2 separate regions of the Homo sapiens genome follow, and region 1 is linked to region 2. Evidence: fine-mapped expression QTL. Tissue or cell type: whole blood. Region 2 holds a variant in brackets; the other region holds the start of a gene. All regions are shown on one strand. Distances are between the middles of the regions.

Region 1 (5,381 bases), 37 kb before region 2:
GTGACTGTCAATTGAAGGTAGTAAAACAGAAATAATAAAGATTCCATCCTCCTCTACCTAAGCATGAAATGTTCCATATCAAACTCTCAGTTCTCTTCAAACTCTCTCCCTAGGGAGCCTCTTTACTCCAGGCTCCAGTTATCACCACTATGAGCACACAGACATTCCTTCCTCATCTGGACCCATATCACTTCCTAACTTACATCGCTCAGAAGCCTCTGAGGCTCAGTTTTGCACAAGCAGAATTAATGATCTTCCACTGCACTTCTGGTCCTCTTCCAGGATTTCCTCTCCCAGGGCTCAGCAGCACCTTCCCCAGCAAGTTAGGAACTCAGGAACCAACTTTTCTCAGTCTCTTTTCCTCATCTCCCACATCTAATCCATGAAATTCTTCCAATTTTAAGATATAAAGAACTCTTGGATCCCTCCATTTCTCCACTGTCAAACTACCACCCAATTCTGGAATTCTGTAATACCCCCAAATGTATCTGCCTATGACCATTCCAAGCCCCCTCCAATCCCCTCTCCACCTCACAGCTCGGAGGATCTTTTCAAAACTCTAATCTGATCATGTCGTATTTCTGCTTAAACCACCTTAATGACTTACACTTTTAGCCCTAACTACCACTTACAAGGCCTAGTAAGGTCTGACCCTTGCCCACACCTCAGGGCTCATTTTGCATGCTGTACTCCTTCACTCTCTCTGGGGCCAACCACAGTAAATTTCTCTCATTCTTTGAGAGGCATCATGCTGTCCCCTACCCCTTACCCCCAAAGCCACCAAGGACTTTGTACATGCACTTTCTTCCCCACTTCATGTAGTTAATCCCATGCTTCTTTCTGATCTCAGTCCACACATGACTTCCTTGGAGAAGCCATCAGAGATCTCTCCAACAAAGTCAAATCCTTTTGCTATATTTGCTTATGGAAATATGGCCCCCATCTTTGCAGCATACATCTCAGTTGTGATTTTGTATTTATGTGTGTGGGATTATTTCACTTACATCTGTCTGCTTCACTAGACTCTAGGCTCTGTGAAGGACAAGAACCCTATGTGCTCTTGTTAAGTGCAGTGCTTGGCACATAATGAGTGTGCAGTAAATAGTTGTTAGATGAGTGAATGGGAAGACCAGAGAACGCTCTTGCATGTTATTAGCTGTAGTCACAGTAAGAAAGTCCTGTTTCTCTGGTCCATCCACTGGGACTTGGTAATGGTGTGGTCATAGGTAACTCTTCTAGACAATGGTATTTATGATAACTTCATCAGGAATTAAAGCCAAAGTGCTGAGGTTTTGTCCTGGTTCTGCAGTAGTGTGGCCTCAGGCAGGTTATAACTTTTTAAAGTCTAAATTCTAAATGTCACCTACAGATGAGAAGTCTCCTTCTGCCTTTGGCCTCTCACCAGCTGCTTTCTCCATGTCCTCTCCTCCCTCCCTTTTTGCAAAGCTAGGGGAGGGCCTGATGCAGAGCTGGCTTCCCTGTGGGAGGACTGGAAGGAACCACACAGCATGGATACTAATTCCATGAGTCCACATTGGTAATCAGAAACTAGGCCTGCCTTGCTATTTAGAAACTAATGCTATATTCTATTTCTTCAGATAAGCCAGTTTTGAAAAACAAGGCTTGAATATTTGGCAGGACAAGGAGCTACTCCCAAACACAGTTTCTTGCCAGCAAGGATGTCAATTTATCAAATTGAAAGGGTATAACCTAGGAGCCTCGGTTAGGTGTACTGGCTCCCTTTCTCGTTTGATTAGAATGACATACACGCTAATTGATCTCTTTCCGGCTCAGTCATCTCCATGCAGTAAAGAATTTCAAGCTGCTATTGTTTATTTCCTATGTATTATGTCTAAATATTTCATGGTGAATGAAGAAGAGTGACTATTTTCAAACTGGAATGCTTCTTCAGAAGAAACCCAAACTGGAATGTTTCTTCAGAAGAAACTTCAGAAGTCACCAAAAAGGTGACTCCTCCATCTTTCTGATTCTTGGATCCTAAAGTATCTTCAGCAAGTGAAGCCCAGTTTCATAACCGAAGAGGTGACTCCATCTGTCCTACAGACTTGCAGTGTGAAGCTTGCAATGGTTTCTCTGTATGTTAATTTCTCCATCTCTAGGATGGCCTATGTGGTTCTTACTAACCTCAGAGTGGTATCATGAAGCCACTGAAATGATACCAGAAGAAAACAAGAGTGATTAATCTTCTAGGATGATAAATCTATATTTTCTTCAAATTCTTCATTTTGCATAAAAACCTTTTTCAGAAAAGAATGTTAACATTGGATATATCTACACCTGATTTGACAGTTCCAAACTACACCCCAACCACCCACTTCTGAATGAGAAGAAAAAAAAATCAGAAGCCTGCAATTGTGTAACATGAAAATCTTTTCTGGACCAGGGCCCGTCACTGTGATTTGGCAACACAACTGGCACATCTCTTTTCTCATCTCTTGAAAAAAACCAACAGAGAAAAAAGTACCTTGAGAATAAAGGTAATGATTAATCTGTCAGGCACAAAAGGGATTGTTTTGGGGATTTCGGGTTCTAAGTCGCAGATTCAAACAAATAGCAGCGAACAGGGAATGACAGTTCCACCAGAAGACGATTAAGCCACAGCCTCTAATTGGAACGGCATTTGTACAGTCAGAGACTCTTACCAGACATCTCCAGGAATCTGTGAGCCATTGTCAAAACGTCCATTTTCATCTGGCTGTGAAAGTGAGGACCACAACAGGTAGGTATTGGTAGAAACAGGAGTCCTCAGAGAAGCCCCAAGATGCAGCCTGAGGGAGCAGAAAAGGGAAAAAGCTTCAAGCAGAGACTGGTCTTGAAGAGCAGCTTAGCGAAAGAAACCCTCTCTGAGTTCTTGGGCACGTTCATCTTGATTGTAAGTATTTCCTGATTTCCTACATTCAGACCCAATAATGCCTCCCTAGCTGCCAGGCTGGTAGTGGAGAGTTTTGTTTGGTTTGTTTTATTTAAGTTAATTGGGATCAGATTCATCTTTTCCAGGAAGAAACAAGTTACTAGAGGCTGTTTGACTATTTAGGGGTTGTGATATTAAGTTTTCAATTACCTATTGCATTTACCCACAAAAGTTGATGGGAATGGAAGAGAAGGAGTGAGTGAAGTGCCTTCTTTATTTCAGGTATTTACTTATACTCTAAAATGGCTTTGTGATTTAAAAGTCAGTCGTTAGTGTTTTCATTGATCAATTGATTTGTACCCTGCTTGCTTCCTCCAAGCATTGGGGTGACTCAGCCACCTGGAATAAGCATCAATAGTCAATAAATATAGTTGGCAAAAATATACATATGGATGGCAAGAAACATCTCAGTATGACAAGTACTTGACAAGTATTGTGCTGTCAGATCACTTGATTTTTAAGAAATTAAAAATTGCACTAGGTAGAAATAGTGTACCAGGCAATAGTCCAGCTTTAGTTTTGTGTCATTTTTGGTCTCTATTTAAAGCAAAGTAATCTCTAAATATCTTTGGAGATTTACAAGACAATTACAAGAACCTTCTAGATATAAACGAGGGACGACTTCTAAGAACCTCTTGAGGATTGCCCAGAGATTTACTCAGCTATTAACAAGAGACTGGAAAGTTTACTTAAGTGGTCTGGGCTTTCATTTTGCTGCACGTTCTAGCATTCTCTGTATCCTGAAGTTTTACCTGGAACCAGGCCATTTGTGAATAGAAATGTATTATCATGTGGCAACTATTGATTTCAACTGGTTTTTTTTATCCTGCTTAAGGATTTCCTACTCCAGGTATAAATAATTTCATTTTCCTTAAAGTTATAGAGAATAGCCCATAAACTCTGTGCATTAAAAGTTCTTTGCTTGGGGCAAATACATAATAATTTAGAAGAATAAGCTTGGAATGCATCAGCTAAGCCAAGAATGAGAAACAAATGTGAACTCAAAAAATTGAACTAGTGGAATGTGAAGAGAGAGTCATAAGTTTTCTGGTCTCTGAGAAACACATTAGACCAGATTCGTTACAGTATTTTCAGGGAGTTACGGACAATTTCTTGCACTCCTCATCTTCCCTTGGCATTCATTCCTGGCTGCTCTGACCACACTCACTGTCATAATGTAGCAAGACATTATGTAGTAAGACATTATGTAAGTAGTTATTTCTAACTAAAATAAAAGAAATAAAAGAGAGAAGATGAAAGTCAGTGATTCTTATGATTCCCGGTCACTGCTTACTGGAAAATCTTTCTTAGTGAGACTGAGACCCCTCTGTCATGTTACTTGACAATCTGGCCCCAAAGAAGCAGTTGTCAATACAGAGTGATTACAGCCTCACAGTGACGAGTGAGTCAGAAAAGTGAAGCAAATTCAGTTACAATTCTTAGTGCTCTGCAGAAAACAGAGGAGGAAATGAACTACACATCTTTTTTTTTTTTTTTTTGCAACCAAAAAGTTTAAAACCCTCTGTATTTCTTAAGAAGAACCTGTTTCATAATCCCGTGCTTTCTGTGTTGAAAGTGAAATTTGCTTTCAGCAGTTCACTGTTCAACTGGCCTTGTGTCTTCCCCACTATGCAAGGTAGGGGCTAAATAAAGAACATCTTGATATTGTCTGTTGAAAAATTAAAACTTGTATGTTCTGGATAAAGCCAGTCATTTCCTGAAATATTTAATTTCCATTTATACTATACATTTATTTTCTAAAGTGAACCCTAATAAAATCTGCAACCTTGATTATCATCTTCAGTTTTGTTGGAGCTTGTGGGGATGTATAAACAAAAAGTTCCTGCACAAACACAATTTTTTTAAACCAAGAAATCTACATGGTTTTGCTGAAAGTTTATCCAAAGTAATTTTCTGCTTTATTAGAGAATGTGCATTTTGCCTTGTATTTTCTAGTAAAAAGCTTTGTACATTGATAAGGCAAAGGGAAGGGGAACATCGAAAAGATGGCAGAGGATATAAAGGACTCAGTCTTTCAAATATGTGAGATTGTTTTTTTTCCGCCAACCTTGGGAGTCTGGTTCTATTTTTTTTCCCTCCTTTCAAAAACTGCTCTTATGGGGAGCATCTCAAACTAATCTAACACCATGGTATAAATTACGGGTCCCCAACACATGGGCCACGGACTGGTACAGGTGGTCCCTGGTGCTAAAAGGTTGGGAACAGTTGGTATAAAGGACTGATAAGGCCTACTGGTAGCATTAAGAGAAAAGAAGGTCCATGAAAAATTCTTTATAAACTACAACTAAAACCAACAACAATTAAGTCATAAGCCAAAAAGCTAGCTCTAATTTGGCCTTTTAGTCATTGGGATACGTAGGCCTTTCACCTTTACTAGTGTGGGGGGAAAGTTTGCAATGCAAAAGGCTGATCTCTTCCTTGGGCTGAA
Region 2 (5,381 bases):
CTGAGAACAAGCCACTCACACTGTGACCACCTCAAAATCAACTATGCCCCCACCCTCAGCAACCCACAGTCATTTTCCTTTAAAGATACATCTCTTTTGAGCTTGTTTTTATATCCTCTGGGCATGGCCGGAGGAACTGCTAGATATAGATTTAAATCTTATACATATATTGGATAAGCATATTGACTTTTAAAAGATATCGAAGTTAATAGCTACATCAGTCTGTTTGGGGTGACTGCTTTATAGATAGAGGGATTCAAGCCTATTAAAAAAACAGCCACTTGAGCACATCAAGTTTCTTTTTATACCTGACTCTCTTTTCATCAAGATAAACATTCTAAACTGTTATCCAAGGATGCCATGAAAATGATCATTCCTCCTTCTCTCCCTGCTCAGATACACACTCTCTCTTTCACGTGCATACACACCCCTCTTTCTCCTCATAGGCAGTAGTTCTCTGCCTAGAAGACTGAATTCCACCTGAGGTCTCTAGATGGTTTTCTGTATATTCTTCTTCCTAACCTGCCCTCTCACTTCTCCAATCTTCCCTTGCAGGTGGTCACATCAACCCAGCTGTGTCTTTAGCAATGTGTCTCTTTGGACGGATGAAATGGTTCAAATTGCCATTTTATGTGGGAGCCCAGTTCTTGGGAGCCTTTGTGGGGGCTGCAACCGTCTTTGGCATTTACTATGGTGAGTAAAGTCCCTGAGTCCTAAGGTTAGGAAGAGCTGGGCATAATTTGAAAGTCAGAATTACTTGGTAGGCACAGGCGAGAAAAAGCAAGGACGGGAAGCATTCTACAAGTGACAGCAAGTTCTAAATTTGAGAAAATGAGGCCATATTACCATTCCAGCAAATTCGTGAATCCTGTTAATGAAAATGGTCATATCTTAAATGGGGAGCAGAACTTAAAGGAAGCCTGTCTTTGTGCCAAGCCAGCACTGCAACATACACATCCATACAACAAGCAGTAGGCCAGTGGCTTCCCCACTGCTGTCTCTGATTTGGCTGGGAAAAGAGGTGTTTTCTGGTGACAAAGGTGTGACCAGTAAGTATTGAGAGAAGGACTCTGGGAAGATGTCTTTGAAGGAAGAGACACAGCAGAGATGTGGGCTGGGTGGGAGCCTCATTGCCCTTCTATCAAACAGCCAGGGCTTCCACTCTGCAACAGTCCTTGGGAAAAACACAGTATTGGTCATAGAAGACCAGACTTTAGCTCTAGCTGTTCAGTAAATACCTGTGCAACTTAAATAAGTCATCTGATCTGACTAGCCTCAGTTTCCTCCTCTGGAAAATGAGGGAATTGAATCAGATGACTCTCGAGGCCTTTCAAACTAAAACACCTTGGTGTTCCCATGAAATCAACTGTTAAAGCAGCTCCTTCCTTCTAACCCAAGGTAAGCCTTAATACATTATGACTTACCCAAACTGAAGACCTTAGGAAGTAGAATTTATGAACCAGGCCTTATAGAAATGGGTCATGGAGGGCTGGGTGTGTGGTGGCTCATGCCTGTAATCCCAACACTTTGGGAGGCATAAGTGGGAGGATCGTTTGAGCCCAGTAGTTCAAGACCAGCCTGGGCAACATAGGGATACCTCGTCTCTTCAGAAAAAAAAATTAAAAATAAGCCAGGTGTGGTAACTCACATCTGTAGTCCCAGCTACTCAGGAGGCTGATAAGAGGATTGCTTCAGCCCAGATCAAGGCTGCAGTGAGCCAGGATCATGCCATTGCACTCCAGCCTGGGCAGCAGAGCAAGACCCTGTCTCCAAAGAAGAAAAAAAAGAAAAAAAAAAAGGAAAAGAAATAGGTTATGGAAAGGGACTTTTCCCCATAGAGTGTCTCTCTGAGAATTAGAGTCTAAAAGGGCTAAAATGGAATTCAAGAACACACAGGAAATTCAGAGCCCGCTGCTGTGGCAAGAATGGCCTGGGGTCAGTGCTAGCTGTGGCAGTGGCTGCAATACCCCTGGCTCTAAGGGCATCTTCAGTATACTGCAACACCCTCAAATTCTGGAGTGGTATTAGGGGTTACTGAGAGCCCTCTGGGAATTATAAATTATTCCTAGAGCAAGACCAAGCCCCACTTTGGCTTACAGTTGACCTCGAAAACTCCAAGAATTCCCCCAAAAGAGAACTCATTCCCAGGACCCTATCGAAGAATAATTTGTCCAAGTTTGCAGTGGGCCATTCAGAGAGGCCAAAGGCCTTCTTCCTTTGACCCTCCATCCTGGGATTCACCTGGGCATCTCTAAAACTATCATTCCTCGGAAGTAGAGAGAGACAAATGACATGGCTATGCCAAGCTCAATCTGAGTGACTGGTTGTTTAGCACAAGGCTTGGCACAGGCCTCCTTCAACTCTTCCCAGGGAACACTAATGTGCCAGAGCTTTCTCTTTCATAGATGGACTTATGTCCTTTGCTGGTGGAAAACTGCTGATCGTGGGAGAAAATGCAACAGCACACATTTTTGCAACATACCCAGCTCCGTATCTATCTCTGGCGAACGCATTTGCAGATCAAGTAAGTGTAGATTCAACAAAGACTTAACTTTGGTGAAAAGATATGCTCTCATAAGGGGAATGCATTGGAGAATTAGAGACCAATCAGAAAGGAGAGATTATATTTCCAAAGGCAGAGGTTGCTGGGCATAACCCAAGCTTTCTTGATAATCGTTTTACCTTTACAAGGAGCTGATACCACCAGAAAAGTTTTCTCCTTCCTCTTTAATACGTACACTTGTTTAACATTAGTTGAGATCCAGAAAAGAGTGAATGACTAAACATTTCAATCCCTGTAGACACAAATGGACTTCACTTCACTATTGACTCTTTTGAACAAGTGGTCTAAGTGTGGAGGCCACAAGAGAAGATATTTCTATTTCAAATCAAAGACTGTGAAGGGTGGTAGTTGAGCCTAGGGGATCATCAATCCTCTCTGTCTCACCATGTGCATAGGTTTATTTATTTAAACTCTCAAGGTGGCTAGAAGTATCTCTGCTTATTGACCTTTAAACAAGCTTCTAGCAC[C/G]CAAGCATACTGTGGTGTAACCAATAGCACACCTATTTGGTCAGCTTATGGCAGGACTAACATTGTCAACTCAAAAGACTCTTCTTCCCTTACTGTGTCCCAAGAAGGCTGCTGGTTATCTTGGTCAGGGCAGTGGAAGGAAGGCTATATTTTTCAGTATCTCTAAGTTCTTCCTCTATGATCAGGACTTATACAGTGGAGCAGATCAGAATGGGCATGTGTATAAAATGGATCTTCCAGTTCATCAGCTATGCCCACCTCCATTCAATGTATGGATGAAAAACTATGCCCTCATGTCCTCAGCTTTTTTACTTTCCACTTTCATCAATAAATCAAACAGGCAACAAGTGTTCATTAAAAACTCACTATGTGCTTGGCCCTTTGTCTGGAGCTTGAAAGACTGACGAGTAAATGTGAGTTGTAAAGATCCAAGATGCAGAGTCTGAATGCTTGAATTAAAATAGCTGTTCTGCCTCCAACTTCCTGCGTGGCTTCAGCAAAGTACTGAACTTTTTGGGTCGCAAGTTATTCACTTGTAAAATGGGGATAATATGAGCCTTCATGAAGTTACTTATGAGGATAAAAAGAATAATATGAGAAAAACGCATTGTAAGCAGTATCTGCCCAGAAATTTTGAATCTAGTTGAAGAGCATTGAACAAGGAAACAATGCAAAATAAGATATAATTAGACAGAGCTGGGCACGGTGGTTCACATCTTACTCCCTGCATTTTGGGAGGCCAAGGTGGACAGGTCACTTGAGCCCAGGAGTTCACTACCAGCCTGGGCAACATGGCAAAACCCTGCCTCTACCAAAAATACAAAAATTAGCCATGCGTGGTGGTGCTTGCATGTAGTCCCAGCAACTTGGGAGGCTGAGGTGGGAGGATAGCTTGCACCCAGGAGTTGGAGGCTGCAGTGAGCTATGATTACACCACCACACCTCAGCCTGGGCAAAAAAGAAGAAAATTAGATAGGAAACTGGAGTATAGCGACCATATTATAATAGAAATTTGAAGCAGAGAGCATAGAAGAGCGAGGACAATTTTGGTTATTTTGGTGTTTTTCTCTAAGCTTTTTTTTTTTTTTTTTAAGACTGAGCCTGTTGCCCCAGGCTGGAGTGCAGTGGCGTGATCTCAGCTCACTGCAACCTCCACCTCCCAGGTTCAAGCAATTCTCCTGCCTCAGCCTTTGGAGTAGCTAGGATTCCCAGTGTGAGCCACCACTCCTGGCTAATTTTTGTATTTTTAGTAGAGACGGGGTTTCACCATGTTGGCCAGACTGGTCTCGAACTCCTGACCTCATAATCCGCCTGCCTAAGCCTCCCAAAGCTGTATCTTGATCAATGCTGACCTGCATACCATATCCTGAGCTTCCTTCATTGTGTCCTTGTCTCAGAGTGAGTTGGCAATTTCTCTAAGGTCTGTGGTTTCTAAGCCCATTATTGTGTATAAAGTCAAGTAGAAAAAGCGAATATTAGAAAACCCTGAGGCTGTAACCGTCAGCAAACCCTGAATGCTGTCCGTATTCTTAGGCTTTGGAGAGAGTTCCAAAAATTGCCAATTATCAGTCAGTCAACACCCAACAGAGCTCTTGGCCATCATGACCATATTTTGGGGTCACCTTATTTCAAGATTACTAAATTGTTTAGCTGTAAATACTCTTCAAGCATATTCCTTGGTTTAGTTAATAATCAATCATTTATTTACCCAATAACTATTTACTGGGCACCTACTTAGCCAAGTACAGCTCTATACTCTTCCTTCTTCAAGGAGTTCAGAGTCTGAGGCTCAATCTAACAAGTAAGTAGATACTCTTTTGCAGAGTGACAGGGACACTGATACAAGTAAAGTCAGAATGTCATGGAAGCCCAGAGGAGGGAGCTTTTACTCTGCAAGAGAGAGTTGGAGAAGGCATTCCAGAGAAGAGTGCTCTTGGGGGAACATGTGTCTTTTAATATTAATTAAAAATTATTTTAACATTATTATTTTGGAAAGCAGATGAAATGATAATGAACTTAAACTTTAAAATCAGTTGCCTGGTTCCCATCCTGATTCTTCTGCTTACAAGTTTGACATTGGACAAGTGTCTTAACCTTGTTTTACTCGAGTTTTCTTATCTATAAACTGAGAATAATAGCAGGATTTACCTCACAGCATTACTGTGAAGTTTTAATGAGATAAAGCATATGAAGTACCTGGCACATAATAAATGTTCAATAAATAATAGCTATCATTTAACTGTTAAAGTAAAACAGTAGTTTGGAAAACTAATAACATAGAAACCAGCTATAATTGGCCAATTCAAATACCTATTATCATTTTTGTTTATTGTCTTAAAATTTTTCTTTTA

The links. PIP is the estimated chance that this variant, and not a neighbour inherited with it, causes the effect.
Region 1: it holds the start of AQP9, and the variant in region 2 is fine-mapped to the expression of AQP9 in whole blood (TOPMed, PIP above 0.99).

What each region holds. Positions count from the first base shown.
Region 1 is chr15:58,135,784-58,141,164 of GRCh38, forward strand. AQP9 (aquaporin 9) reads left to right here and starts at 2,598. Exons shown (of 6, transcript NM_020980.5): 1 at 2,598-2,893. The coding sequence starts at 2,783.
Region 2 is chr15:58,172,513-58,177,893 of GRCh38, forward strand. It overlaps AQP9 (aquaporin 9), which reads left to right. Exons shown (of 6, transcript NM_020980.5): 3 at 556-693; 4 at 2,406-2,524. Among named protein-coding and RNA genes, the nearest start is that of AQP9, 37 kb to the left of the region's middle. The variant C/G (reference allele first, on the strand shown) is at 3,031.